Linked DNA regions of Homo sapiens. The protein of the gene in region 1 interacts with the protein of each later gene in a biochemical or structural test. Each region holds a gene or a part of one and is shown on either strand. Other genes may lie near its edges.

The links.
Region 2: of the proteins of NFKB1 (region 1) and CHUK, one has a biochemical effect on the other in vitro, tested with the Homo sapiens proteins (3 studies listed by BioGRID and IntAct).
Region 3: the proteins of NFKB1 (region 1) and MAP3K8 form a complex in vitro, tested with the Homo sapiens proteins (2 studies listed by BioGRID and IntAct, with this or other methods).

Annotation. Positions count from the first base shown.
Region 1 is NC_000004.12:102,609,205-102,612,958, forward strand, and holds part of NFKB1 (nuclear factor NF-kappa-B p105 subunit), read left to right. Parts: intron 1-1,370; coding exon 1,371-1,495; intron 1,496-2,839; coding exon 2,840-2,906; intron 2,907-3,229; coding exon 3,230-3,402; intron 3,403-3,754.
Region 2 is NC_000010.11:100,222,886-100,226,639, forward strand, and holds part of CHUK (inhibitor of nuclear factor kappa-B kinase subunit alpha), read right to left. Parts: intron 3,133-3,754; coding exon 3,038-3,132; intron 96-3,037; coding exon 1-95.
Region 3 is NC_000010.11:30,451,033-30,454,786, reverse strand, and holds part of MAP3K8 (mitogen-activated protein kinase kinase kinase 8), read right to left. Parts: intron 3,150-3,754; coding exon 3,043-3,149; intron 1-3,042.

The DNA.
Region 1 (3,754 bases):
CTTTATATTGAATTCTCAGAATCCCATGAAAGGAAAAGCAAGTAACAGTTTCTCTGATATATAAATGAAGAAACTCAGATGAAAAACCAAGTCCTAATCTTAATGTCGTGGAAAAGGTCAGTTAAGTCCGAGTGTGGTGGCTCACACCTGTAATCCCAGCACTTTGGGAGGCCAGGGTGGGTGGATCACCTGAGACTGGCAGTTCGAGACTCACCTGGCCAACATGACGAAACCCCATCTCTACTAAAAATACAAAACTTAGCTGGGCGTGGTGGCATGCATCTGTAATCCCAGCTACTCAGAAGGCTAAGGAAGGAGAATAACTTGAGCCCTGGAGGCTGAGGTTGCAGTGAGCTGAGACTGCGCCATTGCACTCCAGCCTGGGCAACAGAGCAAGACTCCATCTCAAAAAAAAAAAAAAAAAAAAAAAGCGTCAGTTAAGAGATAGCTCATCCCTCCACACTTTGGTCCTGTAAATTGTTCATCTTAATTTCTCCATGGATTACATTTATTGCCTCATAGATCAGGCCAGAACTGGGAGAATAAAATCAAGAAACAGCATGAAGATCCTTCTTTGTTTCCCATTAAGTACTCCTCTATTATTGATATTGACCCATCTGATGTTCTCCCAGCAAGATAAAAACAAGTTCCTCCCTCAAAAATGGCATCATTAGACATCAAGCTAAACACTCATAAAAATCATCTAAGCCTCTGAGAAGTAACTCTAGCTCTAGTCTTTGAGTTACTTTGATGTTTTGTTTATTTGTTTGTTGTTTTTGTTTTTGCTGGATGCTAAAGAGCAGACTACATTTCCCAAAATATTTCAATAATTATACATCCTAGTAGGTTTGTTTATTTAAAGATCAGAACCCTGGCATTGCTGTACCCAGCAATGAAACTGGCCATGCTGTCACTAGACATCAAGCATCTTTGCTCTTTTGAGTGTCCAAGAAAAGGGGCTGAGAAATACACATTGTCATGCATAAATTTGAACAGTTAGGACCCTAATCCTGAGGGTGCACCCTAGTGGCTGTAATCATGCTGTCCATCAGCCCTAAGATTAAAGATGCACTATTCAGTTGAGAAATATCCTGTAGAGTTAAATGTGAAAGAGTATTTGAAGTCTTTTTTTCTTCAATAGTATCTTTGGCTATTTCAGGTGTCATAAGACACTTTAACAATCAAAGTAAATTACAATTTTAAAATAATTTCTCTGGATATTCCAGTAGAAATGTTTTATGATTTAAAAATTATCCAGGAGATTGCCTCAAGCTGCTACATTGCTTTGCCTTTGGGAATCTGACCTTTGCAGGCAGTTGGAAGTTGACAAGATCTGGGTTTACCTAATGCTGTGTAATCTAACTTCGCAGGAGCAGATCCCCTGGTGGAGAACTTTGAGCCTCTCTATGACCTGGATGACTCTTGGGAAAATGCAGGAGAGGATGAAGGAGTTGTGCCTGGAACCACGCCTCTAGATATGGCCACCAGCTGGCAGGTGAGTGCCGCTCCATCTGTCTGATGGCTGCCCCTGAGGGAGTCAGAGGTTCAGGAATGTAAGAACAGATGGTCTTCCTGGTGCTTTATTCCCCAAAGAACATGCCTTTTATTTTTAAGAAAGTCTGTTTGTCAGAGACCATTTTTATCTTGAAAAACCCTATCCATGAAAGATCTAGGTCAGCTGAGTTCTGAGTACGAAAGTGTATGCCTAATCAGATCAGAGTTGAGATGTGAGAAAAGGTTAGAAGAAAAACACAAAATTCACATAAAAGTTACCCATTCCAAATTCACACCATAATTGTGACCATCTCAATTTCTGAAGCTAGGATAAATGTTACTGTTTGCTTAGGACTTAGGTAAGTGATTTCAGGATGTAAAAATAAACTAAGAATTCTTCTTAGAATTTCAATAAATATAAACAGAGTAAATAGATTTAAAGCCTTCCTCAAAACTCCACAGGGCTGAGATCTGAAGGTATAAAGCAGTTACTAGGTCATTTGGCCCCAGGAAGAAAAGCCAGAGGGAGGAGGTGGGCAGCATGCAAGATCTCCAACATGACAAGATCAGTTCTTCTAGAGACGAGAGCTGCTCCACTTCTAAAACTGCTCATGTGCCTCCCACAGCCTGTATGTGTCCAGCTCACTGACGTTAGCATGGTTCTCCCTTTATGTTAGCACCTCATTTCCCCAGAAGGCCTTGCCACAGAACACAAAAAGATGATGCACTCAGTGACCCCACGCTCTCCTTACCCAGGTCAGCCAGCAACAGAGTGACTGCAGAGAACACCACAAATGCCTCGGCAGCTACAGAATAATTTTTCTTTTAGCCTAAGACAATTCTGGACCCTCAGTTAAAATGTCAGTATTGCCAGAGGGTTAACACCAAGCCTTGTGAACATCTAGACATCTCAATTTGAGCAAGTTTATACAATTCATTCTCATAAGCTTGTTCCTATGGAAGAAGGGAGACAGCTTCACAGCTCTGAGTAAGCTCTTCACTAGCCTTAGGTCTCTGAGCAGGAGATGATTGACATGGTGGCCTGGACTGCCTGTTCCTTCCAAAAGGCTATAGCTCTGACTCTCTGCAGTTTGGTTGGGTATTCTGACCCAGCTCAGAGTTTGTGCAAAGCACTATTTCCCAGTACCAGAGCCCCTACAGCTGTTCTTCCCCCAAAGGGTACCATATTCTTGGAGGGTGGTCCTGATTCCTCTTGCCATTCCTCCATCATTAGGGTACCAGGCCCTCCTAAGGAGGACATGCTGAGTTGTTTATTATAAAGAAACAGACTGCCCTAGTGGTCCCTTCGATGTATAACGATTTCTGGTGTTTTTCTTTCCAACAGGTATTTGACATATTAAATGGGAAACCATATGAGCCAGAGTTTACATCTGATGATTTACTAGCACAAGGTGGGTTGTGATAAAACCAGATTCTCTTAACCATTATTATCTCCACACTGTCATTTAAAGGGAGGAACCAGCATTATCCAGGGTCTACTGTTAAAAGTTCTTATTTCAGAACCAAAAGATGCTGGAGGTAGATAAGGAGAATATCCAGTTTTAATCTACTGTAAATGTATACTGCCTTCTACTCAGCTGGGCTTTGACCTTCAAGTAGAGTAGCTTGGTTGGTTCCACTGGGAGTTGGACAGCAAGCCAGGCAGCAATGATCAGTCCCTCCAGAGTGTCTATGGCATGTTAGAACAAGTGTGTTCCTTCTTCATTTCCTTCAGGAGACATGAAACAGCTGGCTGAAGATGTGAAGCTGCAGCTGTATAAGTTACTAGAAATTCCTGATCCAGACAAAAACTGGGCTACTCTGGCGCAGAAATTAGGTCTGGGGATACTTAATAATGCCTTCCGGCTGAGTCCTGCTCCTTCCAAAACACTTATGGACAACTATGAGGTAACACCTTACCTTACAGATTTAGCAATTTTCATTTGACTTTACTCTGTTAACATCTCTGGCCAGGGCATAATCTCCTTCCCTTTTCCTTAACTCTGAAGAAGAAAACCAGTCATTGCCCAAGGCCTGGGAGGGTGACCCAGGCCAAGTTGGCAGCCCATCTTCCTGAGAATGCTGTTTTCAGATACCTTCAGATTTTCCCCGTTTTCAAATACCTGGAGACTTCCTGTGAAAATGCTACGTAGAGGGTCAGGATTTTCACAGAACTTTAACGGCCCTGAGCAAACAATCGACTGTAATCAACGTGTAGCTTCCTGTCCCCAAGAACACACCTTACCCCATGGCAGGGCAT
Region 2 (3,754 bases), on another chromosome or scaffold:
AACAGTATTCCATTGCTAGAAGAGGCACATCATGAATCAAAATATTCAATTCTTCAGGAACATCACAGGCCTTTACAACATTGGCATGGTTCAACCTAATAAGAAAGAAAAACATTACAATAAAAAAAATTATTTCCAATAAAAAGGGACTGGATTTGAAATGCTACTTAATTGTGGGTGGATGAACAGAGGGGGAAAGATCAGTATTATTTATAATATTCTAATTTCTGATTTGTATAATTAAAAATTAGTAATTTTTTAAAAGAAAACACACATAAAAATACCATCACTATTACTACTATTACATTTCTAAGTGCCAAGCAGTAAACATTTTAAATATATTAACTCAGTTACTTGTCACAATAATCCTATTATAGGTAGATTTATTAATACTTTCACCACACAGGAGAAAATTGAAGCACAAATTGGCTAAGTAACAAGATCACACAGTGAGTAAGTCAAATCTGGCGTTCTAGGCTGGGTGTAGTTGTAACTGTAATCCCAACAATTTGGGAGGCTGAGGTGGGAGGATTGCTTGAGGCCAGGAGTTCGAGATCAGCATGGGTAACACAGTGAGACCTCATCTCTACAAAAAATTAAAAATTAGCCGGGTGTGGTGGCGCATGCCTATAGTCCCAGCTACTCCAGAGGCTGAGGTGGGAGGACTGCTTGAGCCCAGGAGTTCAAGTCAAGCCTGGGTAACATAGCAAGACCACATCTCTTTTAAAAAAAAAAAGAAAAAAAGAAAAAGAAGCAAACAGAATTTCCATGTACATGTAGGACCTGATAATTTATACTATTAAGCTTTCCTGGTGATTCTGCCACATAACCAAGTTTGAGAATCAAAATGGAATTAAGCACAGATATTAGAGTCAGAAAGTATTTATTTCAAATCCACACTTTACCAACCACCAGCTATGTGATTCTATAAGCTTCAACTTCCTCATTTGCAAAATAATACCTAAATATAAGATTGCTGTGATAACTGGAAGAATGATCTGTAAAGTACTTAGCACACTACCTGTGGAAGTTTTAAAATATGTCTACTTCTCTTTTTAAGAGCTTAACTCTCCTCCCCTTGAATGTAGGCTGTACTTAGTGACTCACTGTAACAAACAGAATGTGGTGGAAAAGGATGGAGTCTCACTTCCAAGTAAAGATCATAAAAGATACGTCGGTTTTCATCTTGCTCGCTCGTTCACTCTCTCTCTCTCTCTCTCTCTCTCAGATCACTCACTCTTTCTGAGGAAAAGATCTTTCTGGGGAAAGCTAGCTTCCATGTCATGAAAACATTCAAGCTTCCCCATGAAGAGGCCCACATGGCGAAGAACTGATGCTTTTGGCCAACATTCATATAAGTGAGCATGGAAGCAGATACTCCAGCCCCAGTCAAGCCTTTGGATTACTGCAGCTCCGACCAATATCCTGAGATGTCTCAGGAAAGACTCTAAGCTAGAATCACCCAGCTAAGCCACTCCCAAATTCCTAAGTCACAGAAACTATAAGATACTAAATGTTTGCTATTTTAAGCCACTAAATGTTGGGGTAATTTATTTTTTATTATTTATTTATTTATTTAGAGACGGAGTCGCCCAGGCTGGAGTGCAGTGGTATGATCTCAGCTTACCGCAACCTCCGCCTCCCGGGTTCAAGCAATTCTCCTCCCTCGGCCTCCCAAGTAGCTGGGATTACAGGCACCCGCCACCACACCTGGCTAATTTTTGTATTTTTAGTAGAGATGGGGTTTTGCCATGTTGACCGGGCTGGTCTCAAACTCCTGACCTCAGGTAATCCATCCGCCTTGGCCTCCCAAAGTGCTGGGATTATAGGTGTGAGCCACCACGCCCGGCCCTAGCTGACTTTTGTTAACTGAAATGAAATAGTTTTTTGATTGTGGTAAAACACACATAGCATAAAATTTACCACCTTAACCATTTTTAAGTGTACAGTTTAGTGGCATCAAGATGCTTTCCTTTTTTTTCAGACAGGGTCTTGCTCTTGTCACCCAGGCTGGAGTACAGTGGTATGATCTCAGCTCACTGTAGCCTTGACCTCCTGGGCTCAAGCAATCTTCCCACCTCAGCCTCCCAAGTAACTGGGACTACGGGCATGCACCACCACACATAGCTAGTTTTTATATTTTTTGTAGAGATGGGGTTTTGCCATGTTGCCCAGGCTGGTCTCGAACTCCTGAGCTCAAGCAATCCACCCACCTCAGCCTCTCAAAGTGTTGGAATTACAGTGTGAGCCAACATGCCCAGCCTGGCATCAAATACTTTCACAATGTTTTGCTACTATCACTATACTGCACAAAACTGTTTAATTCTGCAAAGCTGAAACTCCGCACCTATTAAAAATTATTCTCTATTTGCTGGTCCCTTCACCCTCTGGCAAACACCATTCTACTTTCTTTCACTGTGAGTTTGACTACTCTAGGTACCACACATAAGTGGAATGACACAGTATTTGTCTTTTTGTGACTGGCTTATTTCATTTAGCATAATGTCCACAAGATTCATCCATGCTGTGGCATGTGTCAGAGTTTCATTCCTTTTTAAGGCTGCATGATATTCCGTTTCATGAATATACCACATTTTGTTTATACATGTCTCTGCTGGTAGATACTGGGTTGCTTTTACCTTTCAGCTATTGTGAATAATAATGTTATGAATATGAGTGTACAAATTACTCTTTAAGTCCCTGCTTTCAATTCATTTTTGTATATACCCAGAAATGGAATTGCTGGATCATATGGTAATTCTATTTTTAATTTTTTAGGAATCACCGTACTGTTTTCCGTAACAGTTGCACAATTTTACATTCCCACCAACAGTGTGTAAGTGTCCTAGCTGATTTTAACTAAACCTTCTTAATCTTAATGTGATATTATTATTTGAAATAGAATATATTTAATGAGAGAAAAAAATATATGTTCCCAAAAAGATCCTGAGAAGAGTGGATTCCTGGCCTCTTTCCCCATGATGACATCTGGTTGGGCTGTAGAACCAGGGAAATGTAAGTCAAGGAATACACTTACTTCTTCATAATCTGGATTTCATGGCACCATCGTTCTCTGTTTTTGGTACTTAGCTCTAGGCGACAAGACTTAATTGCTATTTTGAGATCAAGTTCCTGCCAAAATAGAAAATCAACAGAAAAAAAAAATTAGGTTCTTGTGAAGATTTATTTGCTACCAAAGAAATAACTTAAGACAACAAAACTTTTTAGCTTTACTAATTAAATATATTTATCCACAGCTCTCTTGAGGCAATGCTTTTTAAAAAGATAAACCATGAGACTATTACACCAATGCTTTAAAACTGACCTTCAAACACACAACAGCATACAAGGGAAAAGTGCCTGAAACTGATTTTATAACAGGTCTTTTCAGAACTCTCTCTCATATATAATGTTAGAAAAAAAAAGATCCTGTCTCCTCAGCAAACCCCTTTCAGAGCTTAATCAAGACAACTAATATGTGCCCCAGCTTCTAGCATAACTAAAATGAAGAAGGTAATTCAGGGCTTCCTGGACTCCAAACAGCAAGAGAAAGTTTTAATATAACCAAGCCTAAAGCAAAAAACTCCAATCCTAATGTATGCATTTCAAATGACATGAAGAAAAAAAATCCTACCAATGAGTGTACTTCTGCTTCCATAGCTACATAATGAACCTAACATCTCTTGCCTGTGACTAGTAATTTAGCCAATTCTGACTGAAATTAAACCCATTCTGATGCATATTACAGGAAATA
Region 3 (3,754 bases), on another chromosome or scaffold:
ATCTGGGGACTAAGCATTCTTAAAAAAAAAAAAAAAGTACAGCTTCCCTTCTGAATATTGTTCTGCTCAAAGACAACCGTCAAGAATCCTCGCTCGAGCATTTTCAATAATAACTTCAGTAATATTCACAAAAGCAAGGATTTCTTCTGCTGCCCGGGAGAGTGCTGGCTTTGAGAGAGTTGAGAAAGGACTTACAGAATCTTGGCGTTTTTTTTTTTTTTAGGACAAGGTCTTGTTCTATTTTCCAGGCTATGGGTGCAGTGGCATAATCACAGCTCACTGCAGCCTCATCCTGGGCTCAAGCAATCCTCCCACCTCAGTCTCTTGAGTAGCTGGGACTACAGACATGCACCACCATGCCATTTTTACAAAAAGTAAAGTTTTTGTTTGTTTGTTTGTTTACTTTTTGTAGCGATGGGGTCTCACTATGTTGCCCAGGCTGGAAGAATCTGGTTTGAAAGGAAGACAATTTTTTTGTGGCTGCAATCCAGTTCAGTGCAACACGTATACTAGCTAGACTAGACTAAGGGTTGTCATCTGATTGAACACCAAGACTGACCTGGTAATCCTGACATAGAGGTGCAGCCAAAGACCCTCTCTCTATTTCCTATGGGCACTTCCAGCAAAGAGAAGGGCATGGGGCTGAGTGGCTCAGGCAGTGCAGCTTCCCCCGGTAGTGGTGAGGGGCCAAGGAGGCAGCTTTTACACCCATTTACCTTCCTGCTTGCATCCAACCTTGTGCCCATCACAATCAACTGTGAACTAAACTGTTGTGCATGCTTTCTTTCTTTCTTTCCTTCTTTTTCTTTCCTTCCTTCCTTTTTCTTTCTCCTTCCTTCCTTCCTTCCTTCCTTCCTTCCTTCCTTCCTTCTCTCTCTCCCTCCCTCCCTTCCTTCTTTTTTTCTTTTTTTTTTTCAAAAGAGATGAGGTCTGACTCTATTGCTCAGGCTGGTCTCGAACCCCCAGGCTCAAGCAAACCACCCCCACCTCCTTGGCCTTTCGAACGGTTGGGATTACAGGTGTGAGAACACCACGCCCATCCCTAAACGGTTGCTCTTTTAATAATTCAGGTAATTTAAAGTAAGTCCTCCCACCAAAGAGTGAGGATCGCTGGAGTACCACTAAGGCTTGCTCCTCACTGCCTTGTGTCATGCTTCCTCGTTGGTGCTCACAAGAACCTGCCACATAGCAGATGCCCAGTGGACACTGGCTAATTGAATCACCCAGTCAGCCTAATGATGTGAATGTTAAATACATTACTTGGAAGCCCGCGAACGCATTTTTCAGAATCTCATTTAGAGTCAGGAAAGAAAGGCTTTTCTGGGTCGTTTTTTGCTTCACAGATGAGTTAAACATGAGTGCTGTTTTACATCTTTAAATAAGATACATTTATGCTCACTACTTGAGGTTTATTATAGAATTCCTAGGCTCAAAGAGAGGCCTTTAGAGTCCTCATAAATATTAATGACCATAGTTAAGACTGTCATTGAGCCAAAACTCAGTGATATTAGTTATATCACTAATATATTTTAATAATGTATGTAATATTATAATTTTTTAAAGTTATGTAGCAGTTAGACCTTAGGGTTAGACTTAGAAAGAACTGGGTTCAAGTCCAGGGTCTGTCACTGAGTGACTCTGGACACTTTATTTTAATCTCTGCAAACTTATTTCCTTGATTGTAAAATAAGAATAACAATAGCAACAACTGGGTTGTTGTAAGGATTAAATAACATACTGCTTTTTAAGTGCTAAACTTATTATAAAGTTAACTCTAATTCTATAATTATTATTAAAGCTGAACTGTGGGCCAGACACGGGGGCTCAAACCTGTAGTCCCAGCACTTTGGGAGGCTGAGGTGGGAGGATCACTTGAGGCCAACAGTTCATGACCAGCCTGGCCAACATAGTGAAACCTGCATCTCTACTGAAAAAAAAAAAAAATTAGCTGGATGTGGTGGCACATGCCTGTAATCTCAACTACTCAGGAGACTAAGAAGCGCTTGAACCCAGGAGGTGGAGATTACAGTGAGCTGAGATCATGCGCCACTGTCCTACAGCCTGGGCGATGGAGCAAGACTCTGTCTCAAAAACAAAAACAAAAACACACAAAATAAAGCCGAACTGTGGATATGATCTATTTTGGGGGGCTTTTTTTTTTTTTGAAGCAACATCTCGTTCTGTCATCCAGGCTGGAATGCCCATGGCTCACTGCAGCCTTGAACTCCTGGGCTCAAGCAATCCTCCTACCTCAGCCTCCCAACTAGCTGAGACTACAGGCGTGTACCACCACACTGAGCTAATTTTTTTTTTTTTTGAGATGGAGTTTCACTCTTGTTGCCCAGGCTGGAGTGCAATGGCACGATCTCGGCTCACCTCAACCTCTGCCTCCTGAGTTCAGATGATTCTCCTCCCTCAGCCTCCCGAGTAGCTGGGATTACAGGTGCCCGCCACCACGCCTGGTTAATTTTGTATTTTTAGTAGAGACGGGGTTTCTCCATGTTGGTCAGGCTTGTCTCAAACTCCCGACCTCAGGTGATCCGCCCATCTCAGCCTCCCAAAGTGCTGGGATGACAGGTTTGAGCCACCGTGCCCAGCCTAAACCAGTTTTTTTTTATAGAGATGGGGTCTTGCTATGATGCCTAAGCTTGTCTCAAAGTCCTGGGCTCAATTGATCCTCCCACCCCAGCCTCCCAAAGCACTGGGATTACAGGCATTAGCCACCACACCTGGCCAATGTGATCTATTTTGACATGACATTGTGTACAAATGTTCTATATTATATATATCAACATGTATATTATATTACAAATACTATTATGTATTATAAATAACATAGCAAAAAATACAATAAAAAATCAAGTGCTAAACTTAGTACTTGACACAGAGCAAGTGCTCATTAAATGTGTTCCAAGGAAAATAATGATTTAATGCAGTGGGTTTCTTCCCCTTCTTTGTCCTTCGTTCCCACAATAATTCTAGAACATTTTTTCCTTTTTATTCTTAATAAAATAGTAACCCTTTTCATGTGAACATAATTACCTCTGTTCCTCGGAGGTCCTTAGGAAAATAGACATCTTCGGTCATTTGAACACTTAGGCCAAAATCCACCAAAACAGCTTTTGTGGACATGAAAACAATGTTGCTAGCTAAAATGAGAGGAAATATTTTTAAGATAAAATTTTTTATATACCCATAAGTCAAATGAAAACATTATCTAAAACAATAATGAATCTCCAATCAGAAAAGACTGAAATGCTTCCTCTAGTGAGATGGTTGTATTATATTCAAAAGAGGAGAATGAAATTCAGAGTTGAGGTGAAAATCACTTTGGATCCATCAAGAATACAGCCAATGTGGGTATGAATGATTGTAGCCATTAATAATGTTCAAGAACTTGAATTTCAAACTCTAAGACATAAGCATACTGTTGTCAAGCCACTTTTCTAAAACAGAAAAGTAAAATACCCATCTTTTTTCCCAGTGAAAGTTGTGCCACTCTAATTTAGTACTGGCTATTAAAGGTTTACCTATTTCCTCATCATATCAGACTCCTAGAAAACAGTTAGTAAAGGTGTGTTTAATGGATTATTGTTACATTGGTATAAAAAATGAAAAAGGTATTTGTTTCTCAAAAATACTTGTCTCTGTGTTTGTATGTTTTTAAGTAAATTGCTTTTTTTTTTTTTTTTTGAGACGGAGTTTTGCTCTTGTCACCCAGGCTGGGAGAGCAATGGCGCCATCTCAGCTCACT